3 separate regions of the Homo sapiens genome follow, and regions 1 and 2 are each reported to be linked to region 3. The links are microRNA targets in miRTarBase. Many come from high-throughput screens and were not tested one by one. Region 3 holds a microRNA gene; each other region holds the end of a gene's coding sequence.

Region 1 (3,255 bases), not on the chromosome of region 3:
CATGTGGTGGGGTAATGCTATGATCTCCATGAAGTCCTGCGATCTGCTTTCCTCATTCACTCAAGCTTTTATCACTTAGTAAGAATTTCTACATGTTAAGTGGTGTTTGAAATTCCTCTGATTTAAACATAAAATTAAACAATAAAATCAACATGTCTCCTTAATCACTGAGATTTTTTTCTCATACTCATTTCACTCTGCAAAAGTGTGTCTTCTGAAAAGCTGGACTTGCAAAACGCTCACCATGAAATATAACTTTTCAATGCATATGTAAACCAAAAAAATTTGAAATAAAACATTTCATTCTACCTTTTTTGATGTATTTAATTGAATGACTCATTTAGTGATTTTCAGTTTAATATATTTAGCAGGTTAATACCTGGCTTATTAAACAATAATCTTTATTAACACAATTTTTCTTATTGAATACAAAATAAACCATTGCAAACTATAGTCACAATAATCAAGAGAGGATCAAAGCTACTGAGCAAATAGACCAGCTATAAAAGTTTATTAAAAAAATAGACAACATATGTAAACATATTTTTCAGTCACAAGGCTTCATAATACAGCACATTAGGCCCAGGCCTTAAATCTCTGCAGTGAGAGTACCTTAATTTTTTACTAACAGTAATTGACTTATCTTTCAGTGAACATTAAGCCTACACAAAAATAAATAACCAGATTCTGCTAAGTTTACTAACACAGAAAATTGCAAATGTACAATAGATTGCAGCAAAAGTTAACTATCTGCAGTAACATGTGAGATTGAATTGTTATATTACAATTATTTTAATACAGCTTCATTTTGAAATTCATCATAATGTAGAGTTGACTAAAATAAAGCTAAAGGGGAATAATAACAGAGATAAACAAACACCCAGATCACATACACTCCCCAACACACACATGCAAACACACATTTACTAATATGCATGCACACACACACACGCCAACATACATGCACACACATACAGGGATGTTTTGGTAGAAGTAAAACTGAGGACATAGTTTCCATCCTTTTTCTTTCATGTATTGATGATTTTAGGTATATATTTCTCTACCCTTAAGCTGGAAGCTACGTGTTCCAAAAGGACTGAACACAAAGCAATCATAGTTTCAAATGTGATAACATTTTGGGAAAACCAAATCTCTGTTACATAATTCAATAACCACACAAAGTGAAGCCGAATCATAGAACAGATGATAAAACAAGAAAACGTATTAAGTATCTGAGACTTTGCTGCAAGAATCCAGAATGCAAGATCGTTTTCCTTAGGGCAAAACTTACCATGTTAATACAATCCTTTCATACTGTTTCTCATCTGCTGGATATACCTGTTAGGCAACCACAATGCTGCAAAATTGCCAAATAATATGATTTTCCTTTTCTTCTATTATAGGTGAGATATTTTATCACACAATTGAATTTATTTTAAATTGCTGACATTTCAGTTATTCAGTAAACCTTAAGCAAGGTGCAATTTTAAATGAAATATCAAGCAATGTTTTTAATTTAGTTTTTCATTGTTTGGAAAAATTTAAATGTCGATTGTCTGTCTTCTGAAGAGCCACATTCTAGAGACAGAAGGGAAGCACAATACATTTAACATAAGAAACCAAGGCAAATTTACCAAGCTCTCGGGTAGCCATTTCTGCACCAATAACTCTGGATTTGTATCATATATGTATGACCATAAAAGTGATTCATAGATAATTTTATTATTTAAATCCTGATCTGCTATTCAAAGATCCATTTCTGAAAATAATTCATAATATAGTTGTCGTTTCCACCATATGAGCTTATTTCAACAGATGTCTAACATTTATCCACAATTAAATGAAATGTGAAATAACAACAACATACTTAACTTCTAATAGTACTGTACTGCTGTTCCTTGAGTTGTCAGTGTCTTTGGGATTATTAGGATAATTATGCACTCAAATAGAGAAAATAAAATTAAGACACATGACTGTTTACAGTACATGATATCTGTGAAGAGCTAGGTATCTGTAACAATTTTTAAAAGTTCTACTGGAGAATGAAAAAGCTTTCCACTTCTGAATATCAAATAAAGGGCTACTGATGGAGGAAGAATGTTTTCTATAGGAAAAACCTAAAGATTAGCCTCACTCAAGGGGCACACCATGTGGTCTCAGTCAAATGGCAAGGACTGAACTTTGAACATCTATTTTGGAGTTCTAATGAATAAAATGCTTATAACTTATATTCAGTAAAGCTTTTATAAGTTACATTCCGTATAATTTCCTCAGAGAGAAATATCATTGCATAATTTAAGTGAGAACTGGACATATGCATTATCGGCCCACAGCCAAGGTTAGGTAGTTTAAACAGGACTTTATATCTATTCCAGTCGTCAGACTTTTAAGACCTTTACTTACTAATATCACATTATTCTTGCCAAGAAACTAAAGCTCTTTCTTGGCTTTTTGTTGCAAAAATGACAATTAAGAAAAGAAACTACAAGAAAAAAAAACAAGAAACAAGACAAGAAAAAGGAAAGAAAGGAAAAAAGAAAAAAAAGGAAGGAAAGAAACAAAAATAGTGAAGCTCATTACAATTTCTGTTGTGTGCAAATGGACAAAGGCATAAATGAGAACAAAAACATTAACATTGTGCTGAAGGTAATTCGACCCAGCATAGTTTTCATTGGTGCACATCTCTTGTTTTACACTTTTGTGTATTCCAAGTTATAAGAAAAGAATCCAGAGGAAAAACAATAGACATGGCTAACAGCAATCATATACATTTTTTGAGAAGCTGGATATATCTTACTAATTTAGGAACATGGCCACAGCTTTTGAAAACACAGCAGCATGAAACAGTTCAAAGGTAGATACATTGTGTTCATTTGTTCACCTTAAAAAAATGCTTAAACAACAGTAAGGCACTTAGTTTAAGACAGGAATTCTTTCTCCAGTTCATATATAGATGGCCGGCTGGTTTTGCTCCTCATTCTGCACAGTGGCACAGTGTAGTCCCTGCTCTGACCTTCCACGTCAGCATCCAGTAATGAAGGCACATGGGATTTAGTTCTCTCCTTGGCAGCGAGGAATTGGGTGGGATGTGGTCCTGGGCGACCCACTACACAGGCAGTCTGTGCCAGCTGAGACACTGCTGTCTGTGGGTAAGCCTGAGGCAGATCTGAGCGGCTTCTCAGGGAGGCAGGGCGACGCTGAGGCACGATGTGGACAGTGCTGTGCTTCTTGGGTGAGACCTCCCTTGGCAGATGA
Region 2 (3,209 bases), not on the chromosome of region 3:
TTGGTTTATTTACAATCCCTTAGCTAGACATAAAGGTTCTCCAAGTCCCCACCAGACTCAGGAGCCCAGCTGGCTTTCACCCAGTGGATCCTGCACAGGGGCTGCAGGTAGAGCTGCCTGCCAGTCCCGTGCCCTGCTCCAAAGGCACTCCTCAGCCCTTGGGTGGTCGATGGGACTGGGTGCCCTGAGCAGGTGGCAACACTCGTTGGGGAGGCTCGGACTGCGCAGGAACCCACGGAGGGGAGGGGGGAGGCTCAGGCATGGCGGGCTGCAGGTCCCCAGCCCTGCCCCGCAGGAAGGCAGCTAAGGCCCAGTGAGAAATCGAGCACAGCAGCTGCTGGTCCAGGTGCTAAGCCCCTCACTGCCCAGGCTGGCGGGGCTAGCCGGCGGCTCCGAGTGCGGGGCCCACAGAGCCCACGCCCACCCGGAACTCGCGCTGGCCCGCAAGCACCGCGTGCAGCCCTGGTTCCCACCGCGCCTCTCCCTCCACACCTCCCCGCAAGCTGAGGGAGCCGGCTCCGGCCTTGGCCAGCCCTGAAAGGGGCTCCCACAGTGCAGTGGCGGGCTGAAGGGCTCCTCAAGTGCTGCCAAAGTGGGAGCCCAGGCAGAGGAGGCGCCAAGAGCGAGCGAGGGCTGTGAGGACTGCCAGCAGGCTGTCACTTCTCACTTTCACTTAGCATATAATGTTTCTAAGGTTTATCATCTTTTCTGTAAATCTGAAAAACTATTCTAAAATTTCAGTTTATTTAAAAAAAAAGTTGAGAGCTGGTGAGCTTTGCCCTTTTCCCAGCTGCCTCCTGGAGGCCACCTGAAGGTTGCTCCTCCCTGGGCTGGGGTCATGCCCTCCGAGGCCCTGTGGCCATGAGCTCCTCCTTGTCCCTTGGATGAGCGGGACGGCCCTTCAAGTCACACTCCCAGTCCTAAGCCGGGCGCTGCTGCACAGGCTGCGGACTTAGCACCAGCTGGCCTGGGCGGTGGCCCCACGAGTGCCTGGGAGCTGGGAGCCAGGACACCCCCGACGCCTTCAGGTCAGGGAAGCCCCGCCCCAGGGCAGGAGGGGAGCTGCGGACTCAGTGGGAGACTCATTCCGAGCCTAGGGGCAGCCCCACGCTCTCTGAGCTTCGGGATGAGCCCAGCAGCGCCCCCACACCCACTGCTGCAGGCGGGGTCGTGCACCGCACTGGGAAGTGATCCCGAGACCCGCGCACTGGCACGCACGCCTTGGTATGCACAGTTGTACACGTGCGCTGCTGTTTCCACGTGGAAACACAAACACAGTGCTGCCGACGGAAGCGCCTGCCAGCGCCAGCCTTTCCTGCGGCCCCGGCTCAGCGGCCCTGGGCTGTCATCGCAGGCCGCGGGGGACACCAGCCGTCCTGGAGCTCGGAACGCGACCCAAGGCCCAGGCTGTGGGGCAGGCGAGCGCTTCCTGGGCTGGAACCTGGCGGTGAGGACCCCGCGGTTCGGCTCGGGCATCTGGGGAGCTCCTGAGCCCGCACGGTGTCCCCTGCTCCGTTCCTTGCGCGTCACTCGCCCCCTCCATAGTCCTGAGGCTGGGCAAGGGGCAGGACCCTGCAGTCGCCTTCAGCCTGTGGTTTCTTAGTCGCAGAGCTATGGGGGATTGGGGGCGGGGCCGAGGCCGGAGGGGAGGTGGGCGGGGCCAGAGCAAAAGAGGAGACCGGGGGCGGAGCCAGAGTGGGGAGGGGGAAGAGTTTGAGCCTGGGGGCGGGGCGTGAGGCTCTCGGGGCGGCGGCGCCCCCTGGCGGCTGAGCCCGTCCCAGGCACCGGGCGGAACGTGCGACACAGCTGTGCCTTGGTAGTCCGGAGGGTGGGACCACAGGGCCCAGGAAGGTGGCGGGGCTGGGGCCGCACGCCCAGACACCTCCCCTTCGCGCGAATCCAGTGTTCTGAGCTCCACTCAGGTGGCTCCCTGGGGCCTTCCCTCCGAATGGCCAGAGGCCGCAGCCTGCATAGGCCATGGCGCTTGCAACCCTCCCCCGGTCCCCTTCATCTTCAGGCTATTCAAGGGCATCAAAAGGGGCATTGACAAGCGCACCACCCAGAGCGGTGACCACACCCGGGAACTCGCGCCGCTGCCTTCCGGGCTGTGCACAAATGACCTGGTTTCTGTAGCAGCAGTGGCACGCCGGGCTGAGCCTCCAGGACTGGCAGCAGCTGCCAGGGGTTCCCATCCCTGGTCCTCTCCCCAGGGTGCAGGGCAGGTAACGGAACTGATCGCGCACTCTTCATACAGACGCTTATTAAAGGAGATTTACTTTTACTGCAGCTCTTCTTGCCCATCAACTGTCCAAAAACAAAAGACTAGGAAACAGACCCAGCAGCCTCCACCCGACCCAGCCACAGGGCCTCAAGCCTCCAATCAGAGCCGCTCCATGGCACCCCTCAGCTCAGCTCAGTGTTGCCTGGGAGCAAAAGGCTCGGAGACAAAGCCCAGAGGGTGAGCAGGGGGGCCAGCCCCGCGTGTCTGTGAGGGTGCCAAGCCCACCGTGGGCCTTGCCTCCTCTCCCAGGACTCCCGCGCCCTCCTGAGCTCCTATCAGCCTGGCCTCAGTAGCAAGCTGGCTGCCCAGGCTCTTAATCTGCACCGAAGTCCCTGGCCACTGTCCCTTCACCCTGGCATGAGGCCGGCCTCCCTCTCCACCAGCCGGCTGACCGTGCGCAGGGCCAGGGGCAGGGCCGTGTTGGCATCGCGGTGATAGCGGGGGCTGCACACCTCCGTGCTGGGTGTGAGCACAAACTGGGCCACGCTAGGCATCTTCAGCAGGGTCAGCAGCTCTGTGGCCCGGGTACGGATGGCTTCCGCGCCCTCCTCGCTGTGCGTGGAGCTGGTGGCTGGACTGTGAGCCAGGGTCCTCATCTTTGACAGCAATAAAGAGGCCCTGGGGAAAGAAGGTCCCTCCGTCAGCTGCAGATGCTCCCCTCCCAGGACAGGGGTCTGTGTGGAGGGGCCAGGCCTGAAGCGCCCAGCAGAGTGGCTTTAGCTCAGCAGGGCCCACCCAGGACCTGCGCTGCTGCGACCATTTCACAACACCTGGATGGGAAGACCTCAGAAGCCACCTCTCTTCCCCAGGAGCCAGAAGGCTTCGCTCCCTCCCTGACCAGGCACCTGGGGATCAGATCTTGGCTCCGGGAGGCCAGCTTCGTCAGCGTGGTCATCAGCACGGTGACCACCTGGGGGGGACACCTGGG
Region 3 (3,255 bases):
TCTAAGGGTCCTTTTAACTTTAAAGTGCAGAGATTGGCTACTATGATCCACACTGATCTCTCCCTCATCTATACTCCTATTTTACATAATAGAGTTTAGCACTGATTTATTTTTAATTATTTCATAACTGCCAGTTTTGCCTTTCTATCAAGACTGTAGGATGGCTGAAGAGAGGAATCACCTCAAATCTTTTCTGTAACTTAAAGAATGGTTTATTTAATGCTGTCCAAGTAGTAACACTCAATAACTGTGGGATCACTTGGTAATTGGCCAGCTTTTAGCTTTCAGCAGAAATTTAATTTGTTTTCATAGAAAATAAAGTGGCAACCATATAAATTGTTTAAAACTTGGAGAATTGTTTTAGTTAACTCTCTATTTTGTGAGTAGTTTATTGTATAAGAATGCTATGGTTTGAATGTTTGTGTTGCCCCCAAAATTTGTATATTGAAATCCTAACCTCCAAGTTGATGGCATTAGGAGGGGAGGCCTTTGGGAGGTGATTAAGTCACGGGCACAGACACCTCAAGAATGGAATTAGTGCCACTATAAAAGAGGCCTGAAGGAGTTGCTTGCCCTCTCTATCACGTAAGGACAAAGTGAGAAGATATTATCTAGGAACCATGAAACAGGCCCTCATTGAACAATGAATCTGCTGGTGCCTTGTTCTTAGAAATCCCAGCCTCCAGAGTTGTGAGAAAAAAATTATATAAGCTATCCAATTTATGGTATTGTGTTTGGTTTAGTAGCAGCCTAAAAGTACTAAGTCAAAACACATGGTGATGTATTAAAACTGCTCTAAAATACATAAACTTAAGCTACTAACCAAAACCTAGCAAATTCATAAGAGAATTGATAAAGATGAATTTGGTAAACTTGTAATCTATAAAAAATTATCTAAATAACTAAAGTACTCTAGAACTATGCTCTACAATATAGTAGCCACTGATCACACGCTGCTATATAAATTTAAAAATTTAGTTCATTGGCCATTTTTCAAGTGCCTTGTGGCTAATGTCTGTCAAATTAGTGCAGATTGTAGGTCATTTCTGTCAACACAGAAAAATCTACCAGACAGCACTTCTTTAGAATGTCCAGGGAGAAGCTCTTTCATTGAGATAATTCAAAGAAAACCATGTTTATCCAATGCATTTTCCAAAAAAGGAAAAGCCTTGGCGAAGAATTTGGTTTATTCTTCTCAGAACCTAACAAAATGGGGAAATGTCCTTGATTAATTTTGTGTGTTTATAAATTAAGGTACCTTAAGTGGAACAAAGAAATACCATTTATAAATAGAAAATGTATTACAAATATGAAAGTCAATTAAGGAAATACAAAATAAATCTTTGGAAATGACTTTCATATTTTTCTCACAGCCTACCAAAATCCATGGCCAGGAGATATGTAATATATACTTGGCAGAACTTGCCTTTATAGCTTAATTTTCTGTGCCAAAGATACAGGCCTTCAGAATTCTTGTTGAGAAAATAAAAAGTAATTGTGAAATGGTTCCTCTGGCCTAAGGGATGACAACATACATCAACACCATTATACCCTCCCTACCCACCCACAAAAGTTTTTAAAGAGTATAGAACAAACAAACAAGCAAATACAACCTTAACCAACACCAGCTCAACAGATATAGTCTATAAATTAATTATCAGCAAAGGTACAAAGTATGCAATAAAGTACTTAACAATATACATTTTATTTACCTCAGTTTCTCTACTTCTCTACATCTTACCAGATGGGTTATTTGAAAGAACTCCAATCTCCTACACAAAAAAGCAGGACTCTGGCAGATTGCTAACTAGAGATTTTTGGCCCTATAGGCAAGCATCTGTGAGTGGGGCTGTGTGGGAAACAAAAATATGTTGGAAAAAGAGTTGATAGATGCCCCAGCATAAATGAGGACCCAGCAAAATCCATACTCCTGTCATGGCATCTCTGTCCATCCATTTCTGTTAGTTACCAAGGAACTAGCCCAGAGCAAGGGCAAATGGACCACAATAGCTGGAGAAGTGGGAGAAAAGGAGGTATACCTTGAAGGAGTAAACAGTTTTGGATTTGTACAATGTTTTAAAATCATTAACAGAGACATCAAATCATTAGCTGTCAACCTGGTTCAACTTACTTAGAATACGTGTTTTTTTTTTTTTAATCCCATTGGAACAGAAATGCAATATAATCATGAATTTCATCTCTTATTCTTTATGTCTATAATAAATTTTGTTTTTTCTCTGGAAGTCCTGCATAAACATAAATGGTATTCCCTCTAAATTGCAGTTATTCTCACAGCCTCTGAAACCAAGTATGGGTCGCCTTCCCGTTCTGCACCAGGTCTCACCCACGCTTGATTTCATGGGCCAGGAGAGCACATCTGGCAGATCTAACAGAGGTCTGAAGTCAGGACAGTTAGCTAGAAGGTGATAAAGGAGTAAAGCAAGAGAAGATACAATAAAATCTGTTGTATAAATAACATTTTATGTAAGAACCAGCAAATATAACTCAGGGGAAGACATTTTCAGTGCAATTTTCCATTCGGATTATCTGTACTGTATCCAAGATAATATGTAGCGACAGGTAAACATTCAACAATTCTTTCAAAATCTATTTTGTATATATTTCTTTACTGTCAATTTTCGATCATCTGGAAAATTCAACTATACAGTCTCACCCAGTGTACTTTACACCAATCGTTCTGGACTTAAATGTCTTTCTCCATCATCAAATTGTATTGACAAAGTATGCAGTTCAAGAAAGCCCTTCTAGTTTTTATGAGGTACCAAAAGGAAAATACATAAAATTACAATCTAAGATACCCTGACAACACAAAAATCCACAGAATTCTTTCTTGATACCTAAAACTTCGTATGACAAATTTGGTTTTATAAAATGTAGAGCTTTCAAAAAAAAAGCATACCATAACATTTTAAGAAATTCTAAAGTCTTGAGTAATTTGTTAATTTAGGATCTATAAATTTGTATCACAATTTTCCAACATTAAAAGAAAAATGAAAGCTAAGTAACAGACAAACCATGTTGGCATGATACTTTTAAATTTGCAAAATGCAATTATTGTCCATATAAGATTACCAAATAAAAACAAAATCAGAGTCATAGCATAGCAGAACTGAAAAATACCTCGAAATAAGCTCATAGCCTAATCCCAATAATTTAGAAATGGCAAAACAGGAGTTCTTGACCTTCATTTTAACCTGAGTTTGGAAATGCATCACTAGAGGTTGCAGGAATCAG

What was found. The annotated mature microRNA hsa-miR-551b-3p reads GCGACCCAUACUUGGUUUCAG and lies in region 3 at 2,299-2,319, opposite strand. An mRNA with a match to its seed (bases 2 to 7 or 8) in the 3' UTR can be bound and repressed. Matches are read on the target gene's strand: a 7mer-m8 pairs with bases 2 to 8, a 7mer-A1 pairs with bases 2 to 7 and ends in A, and an 8mer does both.
Region 1: miRTarBase lists MAP3K21 as a target of hsa-miR-551b-3p. Seed matches in the 3' UTR shown: 8mer at 2,652-2,659.
Region 2: the mRNA of AP5Z1 is a reported target of hsa-miR-551b-3p. Seed matches in the 3' UTR shown: 7mer-m8 at 2,351-2,357 and 7mer-m8 at 1,392-1,398.

Annotation. Positions count from the first base shown.
Region 1 is chr1:233,382,375-233,385,629 of GRCh38, reverse strand. It overlaps MAP3K21 (mitogen-activated protein kinase kinase kinase 21), which reads right to left. Exons shown (of 10, transcript NM_032435.3): 10 at 482-3,255. The coding sequence ends at 2,919. Among named protein-coding and RNA genes, the nearest start is that of MAP3K21, 56 kb to the right of the region's middle.
Region 2 is chr7:4,790,805-4,794,013 of GRCh38, reverse strand. AP5Z1 (adaptor related protein complex 5 subunit zeta 1) reads right to left here. Exons shown (of 17, transcript NM_014855.3): 16 at 3,127-3,209; 17 at 1-2,899. The coding sequence ends at 2,629. Among named protein-coding and RNA genes, the nearest start is that of MIR4656, 3.8 kb to the right of the region's middle. RefSeq lists enhancers at 412-1,086, 1,191-1,270 and a silencer at 1,661-1,780.
Region 3 is chr3:168,550,978-168,554,232 of GRCh38, reverse strand. It overlaps MIR551B (microRNA 551b), which reads right to left and starts at 2,379; the gene lies at 2,284-2,379. It also overlaps the pseudogene EGFEM1P.